Regions from separate parts of the Homo sapiens genome. Here all the other regions are linked to region 1. The links come from fine-mapping of genetic effects on gene expression. A gene starts in region 1. Each other region holds a variant in brackets. All regions are shown on one strand. Distances are from middle to middle. Region 1 holds the start of GNAQ (G protein subunit alpha q). Region 2 has its middle 70 kb from the start of GNAQ. Region 3 has its middle 25 kb from the start of CEP78. Region 4 has its middle 100 kb from the start of GNAQ.

Evidence for each region. PIP is the estimated chance that this variant, and not a neighbour inherited with it, causes the effect.
Region 2: its variant is fine-mapped to the expression of GNAQ in whole blood (TOPMed, PIP 0.93).
Region 3: its variant is fine-mapped to the expression of GNAQ in whole blood (TOPMed, PIP above 0.99).
Region 4: its variant is fine-mapped to the expression of GNAQ in skeletal muscle (GTEx, PIP 0.99).

The regions. Positions count from the first base shown.
Region 1 is chr9:78,030,531-78,033,030 of GRCh38, forward strand. GNAQ (G protein subunit alpha q) reads right to left here and starts at 1,281. Exons shown (of 7, transcript NM_002072.5): 1 at 570-1,281. The coding sequence starts at 705. RefSeq lists an enhancer at 470-1,364.
Region 2 is chr9:78,100,317-78,103,066 of GRCh38, forward strand. No RefSeq gene overlaps it. Among named protein-coding and RNA genes, the nearest start is that of GNAQ, 70 kb to the left of the region's middle. The variant G/A (reference allele first, on the strand shown) is at 1,071.
Region 3 is chr9:78,210,144-78,212,893 of GRCh38, forward strand. No RefSeq gene overlaps it. Among named protein-coding and RNA genes, the nearest start is that of CEP78, 25 kb to the right of the region's middle. RefSeq lists an enhancer at 854-1,173. The variant A/C (reference allele first, on the strand shown) is at 1,122.
Region 4 is chr9:78,130,421-78,133,170 of GRCh38, forward strand. No RefSeq gene overlaps it. Among named protein-coding and RNA genes, the nearest start is that of GNAQ, 100 kb to the left of the region's middle. The variant C/T (reference allele first, on the strand shown) is at 1,448.

The DNA of each region.
Region 1 (2,500 bases):
ATCCAGCTGCGAGTCTGCCCACCGTTCCCCCATTCCCTCCTGACCCCATAGGGCACTGATAATGGATGCACACCGGCCACTCCACCGCAGGCCATCCCCCAACGTGCCCCGGCTCCGCTCGCCACCCGCTGGGCCACACACACGGCTCCCCACGCCACCACCCCATGGGGTGCCGCGGCCACGACACTGGAAGTTCAACCCCTCTGCCCACCTTTCCACCCCCGCGCCTCTGGTCGGAGTGATCTGCCATTTAGCAGATGCACAGCAGATAAGGTACAGCCCTCAGGGACACGAAAAGGAACAAGCCAAGGCACCGGGCAGGGCAGCCCCGACCCCTGTGCTGCGTGTGTGTGTCGCTGTGTGTGTGTGTGTGTGTGTGTGTGTGTGTGTCTGTGTGTAACGCGCCCGCGCGCCCGCGCGGGTGAAGGCAGTGGCCGGGGGCGCGCCCGGGAGGGTAGGGGCGAACCGCGGGCGCCGGGGGGCGGGGGCGCCGAAGGCAGCTGCCCCGCAGGGCCAAGGATGGTGGGCTGGGGGCGCAGAGGCCCGGCGGGGCCCCGGACGGTACTCACCGAGCAGCAGCAGCTTGAGCTCCCGGCGGGCGTCCCGCTTGTCCCTGCGGAGCTGCCGCTCGATCTCGTCGTTGATCCGCCGGGCTTCCTTGGCCTCCTCGCTCAGGCAGCACGCCATGATGGACTCCAGAGTCATTCTTCCAAAGTGCCTCCGCTGCAGCCCCGCCGGCACCCCCTGCTCACAGCGCGCACACACACCCTCCCGCCCTCGCTCCCCCGAGGCAGCGGTGGCCGCCGAGCCCCCGCCGCCCGGGCGCGCGTCCGGGACGAGCTCCGGGAACCGCCGCGGGGGCGGCGGCCAGGGCCGGGGCCACCAGGTGGGCCGGGGGCGCGGTGGGAGCGGATAGTCTGGGCCGACGGGAGAAGAGAGGCGGGCGCGGGAGGCGGGCGCTGGCTCGGGGGGCGCGTGAGAGAAGGCCGCCGCGCCCGGCCTCGCTCAGACGCCCGCGCCTCCTTCCCCGGGAACAGGCGGCCCGCCTCGCCCCCCGAGCCGCCGCCGCCGCCGCCGCCTGCGAGGCTCCCCTACGCCGTGCGCCTGGCGGCGAGAGCTCATTCACCGGGGTGTCCCCGCAGCGAGCGGCCGCCGACGGCTCCCCGCGCCCGGCGCGCCCGCTCCTCGCCGCCGCCTGACACGGCTCCCGGGCGCCCTCGGCCCTGTCCGCGCCCACCGCCCGGCTCGCGCGCAGACCCGGTTCCCGTCCCGCCCGGCAACCGCGCGCTCCTCCGCCTCCGCCTCCGCCCCCGCCCCCGCCAGACGCCCACCCCCTGCCCCGATTGCCAGGCGCGGAGCGGCTGCTCAGTGCGAGCCCTCCCCCTCGCCACACACACACATTTTCTTCTTTCTCTGAACTGGAGCACAGATCCGGGAGGGAGGAGGCGGCGGCGAAAGGAGGAGGAGGAAGAGGCGGAGGGGATGGGCGCGGGAGGAGGGAGCCGGGAGGCGGTGCCGCCCGGCCCCTCCTGGAAGGCTTTCCTGGGCTCGCGGCCGCCGCGGCGCGCCTCCCAGTGCGGCTCTCGCCTCGCCCGCGCGGCTCCCGGGCTGGGCCGGCCCCCGCGGGCTCTGCGGACGCCTACTGCTCCCGCACCCTCGGCAGAGTCCGCGGGCGCAGCAGTCACGGCCGCCCCCGGCCGAAGTCGGGGCCAGACCCGGCCGCCGACGCGCAGCCCGAGCCGGCGGCCGCCGTTGCGTGCCAGGGCCGCAGCCGACCTGCGGCTGCCGTCCGGCCGGGCGTGGTGAGACAGGAATATGGCGGCCTCTGCCTGCCTCAGCCCACCGGCCCGGGAGCGCGGCCGCGGCCCCTGCTGAAGTCGCGGGAGGCGGCCCCGCGGAGCCCCGCACGCGCTCCCTGCGGCGCCGGCGCTGGCGTCCGCCGCTCCCGGGCTGTGCCTGTCTGCTCCACGGGGTCGCTCCTCAGCCGTTTCTGTGTTTCCCGTTCCTATTTCTAAAACGCCATTCGGTTAGAAACTCTCACGTCACCTCTGACACCGGTGCAGTCTTAGAAAATAAGCTCCTCTATACTGTGTGGGGCTACTGGGGAAGGGAAGGGAAGGAATTGGCACCGGTGCCCAGAGGTGTAGGGGGAGATTCACAGGCGAAGCTGTTCGCAAAGTAACGTGAGATAGAAATCTAAATCCTGAACAGAGAAAGGAAGCTGCCCAAGTTTCCAAGAGCCTCCCGATAGGTTCCAACTTTTCATGCCTTTGTTTTTTTGGTGGTTGTTGGTTGTTTTTGTTTTTTTAAGTTGTTTTTGTTTTTGTTTTACAAGTTCTCTTGTTTCTGAGAAGGCACACGATGTTTAGCCGCCGAGTAATCGAATTTACTCTTCTAGACTGAGATTGAATTATGGATGACTTATGGGAAAATGTAAAATAATGTGGAATAAAAGGAAAGGAAAGAATGAAATAGAAGAGAAACTAAGGAGGCCCCAGCA
Region 2 (2,750 bases), 70 kb after region 1:
TGGTGCAGGAGTTGGCGAAGGGTTATAGAAATAAACAAGGTAAGGCTGGATTCTGTCCCCTAGAGAAGCATAGGAGCACATGTGAGACGAAGAACATGACTCTGGAGCTAGATTGCACTGTGTGACTTTGAGCAAGTTACTTAAATTCTCTGAGCATCAATTTCCCATCTCCAAATTGAGGATGATAATAATATGTAGGTATGTTATGAGGATTAAATGCTTACTGTTTACAGAGGACCTAGAACAGTGTCTGACACACAGTAAACACAATATAAGTATTTGATTAACAAATAGATGAAAGCTTTGTACATTGGAAAAAAGGACACGAGGTCAGAAATATGAAGAATAACGTTAAATAATTATGACTTGCTGATAATTTTCATGTAATATATCAGATAAGATTACATACTCCCTTCAAAAAATGATAGCACATCTCCTTTAATGTAAAACCAAACTATAATGTTACAAAAGAAAATAAAATTAATAATAATATATCAATATTGGTTTATTAATTGTGACAAATATACAGGAAAAAATGTTAGGAGAAATTGGGTGTGGGGTGTATGAGAACTCTGTACTATCTTTGCAAAAATTAAGTACATTGAAAGATATTCTAAACTAAAATTCTATTTTTTAAAAAAGAATATATGGCTCATGACTGTAATCCCAGCACTTTGGGAGGCCAAGGCGGGTGGATCACAAGGTCAGGAGATCTAGACCATCCTGGCCAACATAGTGAAACCCCGTCTCTAGAAAAATACAAAAATTAGCTGAGTGAGGTGGAACGCGCCTGTAGTGCCCAGCTACTCGGGAGGCTGAGGCAGGAGAATCGCCTGAAGTGGAGGTTGCAGTGAGCTGAGATCGCATCACTTCACTCCAGCCTGGCAACAGAGCGAGACTCCCTCTCAAAAAAAAAAAAAAAAAAAAAAAAGAATATGAATTAAGGAGTAATTATTTACTTCACAGAAATGTTGATTGTTAAATGACAGAATTTAAGAGCTGAGTCACAGTAATCTTGAATTCACCTTGTCTATTTTACAGAGGAGTGTTGATTTAGGCTTGCTTCACAC[G/A]TGGCTAATTTTCAAGATCAAATTCACACAGGAAAACAAGGGGGGCAGAAAGACAAAGCACTAACCTAGAAGGTGAGGTGCATCATGTTTCACTCAATGTGGCCGTGGCTCAGGCACATCACAGTAACAGTTCTGGACCTCAGTTTTTCATTGGTTACTTTCACTCTAACATTCTTGATTCTAAACTTGATGTGCATCTACATCACAACATAAGGCAGCTCTGGGGAGCAGGCTCTAACTGATGCTTTCTCCAAGCCCCTAGAAGCTATGCATATGCAGTTTGTGTGCCAATTTCTGAGTGTGTGTGAGGAAATGCAGGGGTGAATCGATGGACAAATAACTAGACAAATATATTTGTTTTAAAGACTCAACATTGAGGACCAAGTTTTCATAGTGAATACCATTCAGCAAGTCGATTAATCAGATTTGGATAGGAGTAAATGTGGGCAAACCTTGACAATAAAATATTTACTGAAAGTCTGCAAGGGGAAGATGACATTCTAAATAGGTACATGCTATATGTTATTAACAGATCAAATTTGATTTAGAAAAGGAGAGATCTGGAATTTCCTATAAAAGCAAGAAAGACTATGAACTAACGCAAGAAATTTTGAAGCTGAAGGAAAGAAAGCTTATAAAGAGTTCAAGATAATGGGGCCTGATGCTGGCTGATGTTGAAGAAATGCTGTTACCAATAGCAGGCAGACCTGGATCTGACAGCCACCTGTTGAGAAAGCCCTGAAGAATAATGGCAGCTATTCAGTCAACAAATTTGGGGAGAAACTCAATTGCCCCAGAGGCCCTTTTCAATTCTGCTACTAGTTTTCATGAACAAATTGTCATTCTTATTGTAATGCTTACTTTACTGTGAAAGTCATGATATTTTTCTTCTGTAAAATACTATCCTAACACAGTCAATAATAATTAATGAGTGGTAACCCAGTGATTCATGGGCTATAATTTTTTTTACCAAGTAAATCATAGTCTCATCTTAGCAAGTTATTAAATGGATAAAAGTCCTTCAAATCCTGCAAATCATTTGATTTAAGACTTAATTCATGTTCAATGAAATTTATTTTTTTAACTATTTTAAACAGCATTGATTGAGACAAAAGCTCAAGAAAATGGGTAGTTTCTACATTGCTTTGAGATTGATGCTATTTAAAAGATTTGTGCTTGAAATATTGAAAACTAATGGCCACCCTAATTGTTCTTCTAAAGCTAAAGCTATTAAATAACCATCTTCAGAAGTATCCCTTGGAGCAGGTTTACTCGTGAGCATAGTATTCATGTTCTAGAAGCCAATGATGTTTTTTAGGTGGAACAAAAGGGATTTTCCTCTGCTTACATTTTATCTGGAAATATGTTTCATCAAGCAGACAGCCAGATGGAAATAGCAAGATTTTTTTTATAGTCAATAAATAACTCTGCTGCTAGAATAACTCAGACTTGACAGCAATCTACGCAACAGTTTATTCTTCTGCTCTCTCAGGATGTAAACACTGTTGTCAACAACCAATCAGATGCACTAAAGCTACAAATAGCATGTTTAGTTTATATGTATATGCAATCAGCTAAACAAAATTTTGAACATCAATGGGACCCATTTCTAATCACTTTGTTCTTGTTCAGGTCCATCACACTGCATAACTTCAGGGGGCACCAATCACATTTTAGTCA
Region 3 (2,750 bases), 180 kb after region 1:
CCTGGGTCCATGTGTTCTCATTGTTCAATTCCCACCTATGAGTGAGAACAAGAGCAAATCTTTCTTATGCAATTGGCTGTTCCTTGAAGATTTTGACTGAGGAATCAAGATACAATATATATTGCACTTCAAAGTGAGTTGCTAAAACAAAATACAAATTTTCAAAATAAGTATCTGAACACCAATGACAGAACTCATCCCTCACACACATTAAAAATACAAAGAGGATGAAGTACATGGAGGTTGAAGGTGAAACTGGGAGGAGGATTTTGGAGATAGATGTTGGAGTGCTAGATACCTCAACAAGGGTGAGGAATAGAAGATGTTTCCCACTTAACGGTTTTAAGGAGCCCACATAGAGAATTCAAGATGTGCTACATTCAGTTTAAGGCAGCAGTGTCCAATCTTTTGGCTTCCCTGGACCAAAAGAAAGAATTGAAAGACAATTGAAAGAATTGTCTTGGGCCATACATAAAAATATACTAACAGCAGCTGATTAGCTTTAAAAAAAATTTGCAAGCAAATGTCATAATGTTTTAAAAAGTTTATGAATTTGTGTTGAGCTGCATTCAAAGCTATCCTGGGCTGCATGCAGCCCATGGGCCACAGGTTGGACAAGCTTGATTTAGGGGACTATACTTGTGTCTGATTCCCACTAAGAAATGTAAACACAGTGAGATAGAAGTATTTAGAAGCTGATCTAGGAGAGGTGGCTGTGGCCAAAGAAAGTGTATTTCCTGAGGAAGAGGTTTGTACCACTCTTGAGAGGCAGGCAGTCTGGGAGCATCAAGAATCTTTCTGAGGGCTATCTGAAGACTAAGAGAACATCAGAAGAAGGAAGCTAGCTGTGGGTCACTGGATGGTGAGAAGTCGCAAGAGGAGCTGCCAGTGACCAGCTAGAAGAGACATCATTTCCCACATCAAAGAAACGGAAAGAGAAGCATCCCCCAACAATGGCAGCTTTCATGATAACCCACAAAAAATGCACATAAGAGAAAAAAACAGCTTCACGCTCCAGCAAGCAGAAGCCATCCACTGACAACATCAATCAAATAAGAACTTTCTCGCCCTTTTCACTTCCTTTCCCACCTTGCAGTTCCAGCCTGAGGAAGCCAAGACAG[A/C]CTTTTACAGGTGGCCTAATCATAGCCTTGATGGGCAGATGGAGGGAAAGTGCTATGGGTAGGATGGAGAAGTCGACCTTGTCCTGAAACAGTACCACAGTGGGAAAGGCAGGATGATTGACCTTTGAACGAAGATTAAAATTTTGATCATCGCGTGGGACTATAGGAGTTTTCAATCAGGAGAGAGGAAGAACGAAACAGTTAAAGGGGCACTGGGAAATAAGAAATTGTTTTACAGTTATATCACATGAGTTGTCTTTATTCCACATAGTGGCTACACAAAAGAGGGCTTTTCAAATGCCCGTATCCTTTGACTCAGTCATTTCACTGCAGAGAAAGTGTCCTGCTGTAGCTTTGTAGTCGAAAGCAGCTTTTTTGCTTGTTTGTTTATTTGTTTTCAGGATAGATGTTCATCTTTGCTCTTGGAATGTTACTCTGAGGTTTTCTTGGTTAGGCAAATCTAAAGAAGGAATGAAGACTCCATTGTCTGGTAATTAAGATATACTAAGACTTCCATCTCCAAAGGAAAATGGAGCAATACTCTCCCCATGCCAGCCTACCTTTATGAATTAAAGAGGTCCATGAGGCTAGGTTGAGAGCCAGTAGGAGGCTAGCCAATAGAGTCATTGAAATAAATTAACCATGGTACTTCTGGAGAAGTGGTTATCCCTATAAACCCAAAGCGCTAAAGCCTGGGACTCCGGCCTATTCCAGCCCATGAGAGTATAATACAGTGGGGTTGCCTTCTCTTGCAAGAGTGCCGAGGTTACGGAAGGGCTCTGGTCCAGCCCAACAGGGAGCTCCAGCAGCTTCAGAGACACCTTCCCTGTGTAGCAGTTTTTACCTTCATGAGGCCCAGACTTTCAGGTGGGAGAAATTTAATGGAGGGCCTTGGGACTTCTACCTTAGTGACTCAACCAAGTCCCAGTGCCATCTTACCCGGCACTTATTTCAGCTCCAAGGGACAGTAATACCACAGCCTTACTGTGGTTCCATCCCCCGACCTGGGGCCAGGGTGCCTTAGATGCTTTACAGGTGGCAGGATGAGCACCTTAAAGGGACTTCAGAGGGGTATCATGGGTGCCTTATCTCTGAACACAACCTATGCCTTCTAATGCACTTTCTCAGCACTACAGCTGCTCCATGAGTGTGGGACTTCACTGCAACTTCTACACCTCCCACCCAAAGCTAGTGTGTAGTGGGCAATGGCCCTGCCACAGGGTCAGCACACCAAGGCCCTCAGAGTCCCACGCTGGGACTCCTTCTTCTCAAGGCATCTGCAAGACTAGTTCTCACAGAGATAAGGTGACAACCTCTGCTTAATAACCATCTTTAAGTGTATGAGCCTGCTATTTTATTTTAACTTCAGTATTACTTCCCTGCCTTACACAGGTGTAAAATTTCAATCCCCTGGCTACCCTTTTATGGCTTGATGGGCATTTAAGATGACCTCTCTGTGGTTCAGTTTGGCCCAGAATTGTTTACTTGCATCTTTGATGAAGAGGAATTTTGTTTACAGCCTCTAGGCTTCATTCAGGCAGACCCTATTTCCAAACAATCCTTTTACAGAGGTAACTGGGAGGCACTAAAGAAAAAGCATGTCACTTAAGTAGGGAACTCATACTGTTG
Region 4 (2,750 bases), 100 kb after region 1:
GCTTCAGTGGAAGTCCTTCCAGCAATGAGAACTGCTTAGCCACAATCCAACAATAAGGCATCTATTTTCTATTTCTTGGTAAATTCCCTCCTGTAGCAGGAGAAAAATAACATTAGGTCTCTTTCTCTTCCTTCCTCTCTCCAAAACTTTCATTCTTGTTTAGGTGAAACATTTAGAAGAAAAAACAAAACTTTAAATGTAGTTTTTTTTTGGTAATATATACAAAGATATATATATGGAGAACATATATTAGACTTTGCATCTAACACCATTTTTCCTGGCAATATTTCTTCAGAAAATCAAAAAGAAAACTGTTTATCATTATTCATAACAAAGTCGTTATTCTCCTACAACAGTTCTTTGGATAGGTATTCTAAATTATTTTGCACTGTTTATGCACTTTTTTCAAAATGTTTCTCTTCTGATTAGGTTTTCTGGCTTCTAATTAATTTGCACTATTTTCACATTTTTTCAGATGCATATATTGATCTAAGATTCCACATAATAGCAAGCTGGAACTAAAACTGTAAGTGATCAGAAAAATATGAAAGCAGGAGAAATAATCCTGCATGTACCAAAGAACAATCAAAGTATTGTACATGAGCACTGCATGCAGAATAAACTGTGGTCTGGAAATCAAGAGACTTTGCCATCCTTCAGGTCATTCTGTGTGACCTTGGACAAGTGTGTGGCCTCTTGAATATTTTACAGAAACATGAGTTTCTTGATCTGTAAATTAAGTGGATTGGGGGATAAGATTTTTAAACTCCTTTCCACTGATAAGATTCAAAGACTTCCACTGATTATTGGGAATGTAGAATAATTCACAGATAGAACTTAGCAACAACAATAGCAACAACATCAACAACATTAACAGCTCCCATTAAATAAGGATTTATGGCTAGGCGCAGTGGTTCGTGCCTGTAATCCCAGGACTTTGGGAGGCTGAGGCGGGCAGATTGCTTGAGCCCAGGAGTTCAAGATGAGCCTGGGCAACGTGGAGAAACCCCGTCTTTACAAAAAATACAAAAATTATATGGGCGTGGTAATGCGTGCCTGTAGTCCTAGCTACTAGGGAGGCTGAAGTGGGAGGATGGCTTGAGCTCAGGAGGTCGAGGCTGCAGTGAGCCATGATCATGCCACTGAACTCAAGCCTGGGCAACAGAACGAGATCCTGTCTCAAAAGAAAAAAAAAAAAAAAGCACTTAGTCCCTGCCAGGAGCTGTCTGTTTTTTATGTATTATCTTCTCCGATTCTTATAACAACTACTTGAAGTAGAGATTATTTCTTCCATCACGTAGATGAAAAAACTGAGGCTAAGAGAGAGTAAATAACTTTTCCTAGGGCCCACAACTAAAAGTGGGGAGGCTGGATTTGAATCCAGGTCTAATTTTGAGGTTTGTGCTTTTAATACAAGACCAATTCATAACCTTTGGTACATGGAATT[C/T]TGGGGGCTATCTTCGCATTATACCATTGCTGCTGTTGGGTAGGGTAGCAAAGGAGAGGAGACAGATAGACAAGAGGCCGTTAAGAGTTCTTTTTGTTTCAGAAAATGAATATAACTAAAAGCTTCTTCCACTCCCTAGAATAGTCAGTTGTGGTGGGCCAATGAATTTCTATACCATGTTGGAAATTTATAGCTGTGAGGGCATTCTGAAAATTTCCACTAGACAAGAAGTGATTTGAGCAGCCTAAGACAGATGAATCTCCCAGTTGAGGCTTAGAACAGACAGCTCCAGATCTGGCTTTCTGGCTAGCCTGGATGCCAGTGATTCACTCATTGTGTGATTAAGTGGCAGGCTTATGTTTCTAGAGCTAATGATTCTAAAGCTTTCTGTGGTATTAAACTAACACACATAAAAAAACTAAAGGCAATTAGAAGCAATCAAAACATTTGGAAAGTAAGATTCAATTTCTGCATTTGCTAAACTCTTCATCAAGAAAATCAGTAAATTTTTTTTAAAAGCCATGAACATGATACACAGAAAATTAAAAAAGCAATCAGTTTTAAAATGTACATGCGCTTTCCAGAATGCTTAGGACACTTAGGACTGAGCCATTTTTCACTTGTCTTATTTTGCTGCATTTATTCAGACATGTGAACACTCTCTTGAATAACATTCCTCTTTCAATTTTGACAGATGAATGGGTATGTAACTCCTCAAGTGCCAGAAAAACCCTTAGAAGCATCAAAGAATAAAAGCCACACTGAAATATTTATACAAGAATTTCCAGCAAATAGTAGTGGGCAGGCTTCCCTTATTCGGGCTTAGGTGTGTATGATGTTTGAAAAATCTGTTAAGTCACTTTTGACCAGGTCAGTCTCAACGTTTGTCAATGTACCATCTCATTTGGCCTCTAAGAACCTACACAGTGATATAGAAGACAGGATAGGAAGTTATCTTTCCATCCAGGAAACCATTTGACTTCTTCAGTTAGCACTTTCACTTTCATTTTTCTCAGGGCAAAATTCAATACCTTTTAGAATACAAAGTAGGGCCTTTTAACGTTTCAGTTGAATATCCCCTCTTGGCCAGTCATTAATCATTCATATCTTTGGCTCTGAAATCTTTAATGACCACTGAATAGGTTAAGCTTTACTAAATGTGAAGAGATCTAGGTGTTGGTCAATGTGTGTGTATGTAGATGTACATTTTGTGTGTTTTGGAAGGGGTTGCAATAAATATTCGTGTCTTAAAGAATGTGAAAATAAAGGAAACCAAAGTGCCACTTCTATTTTTAAATTCCCA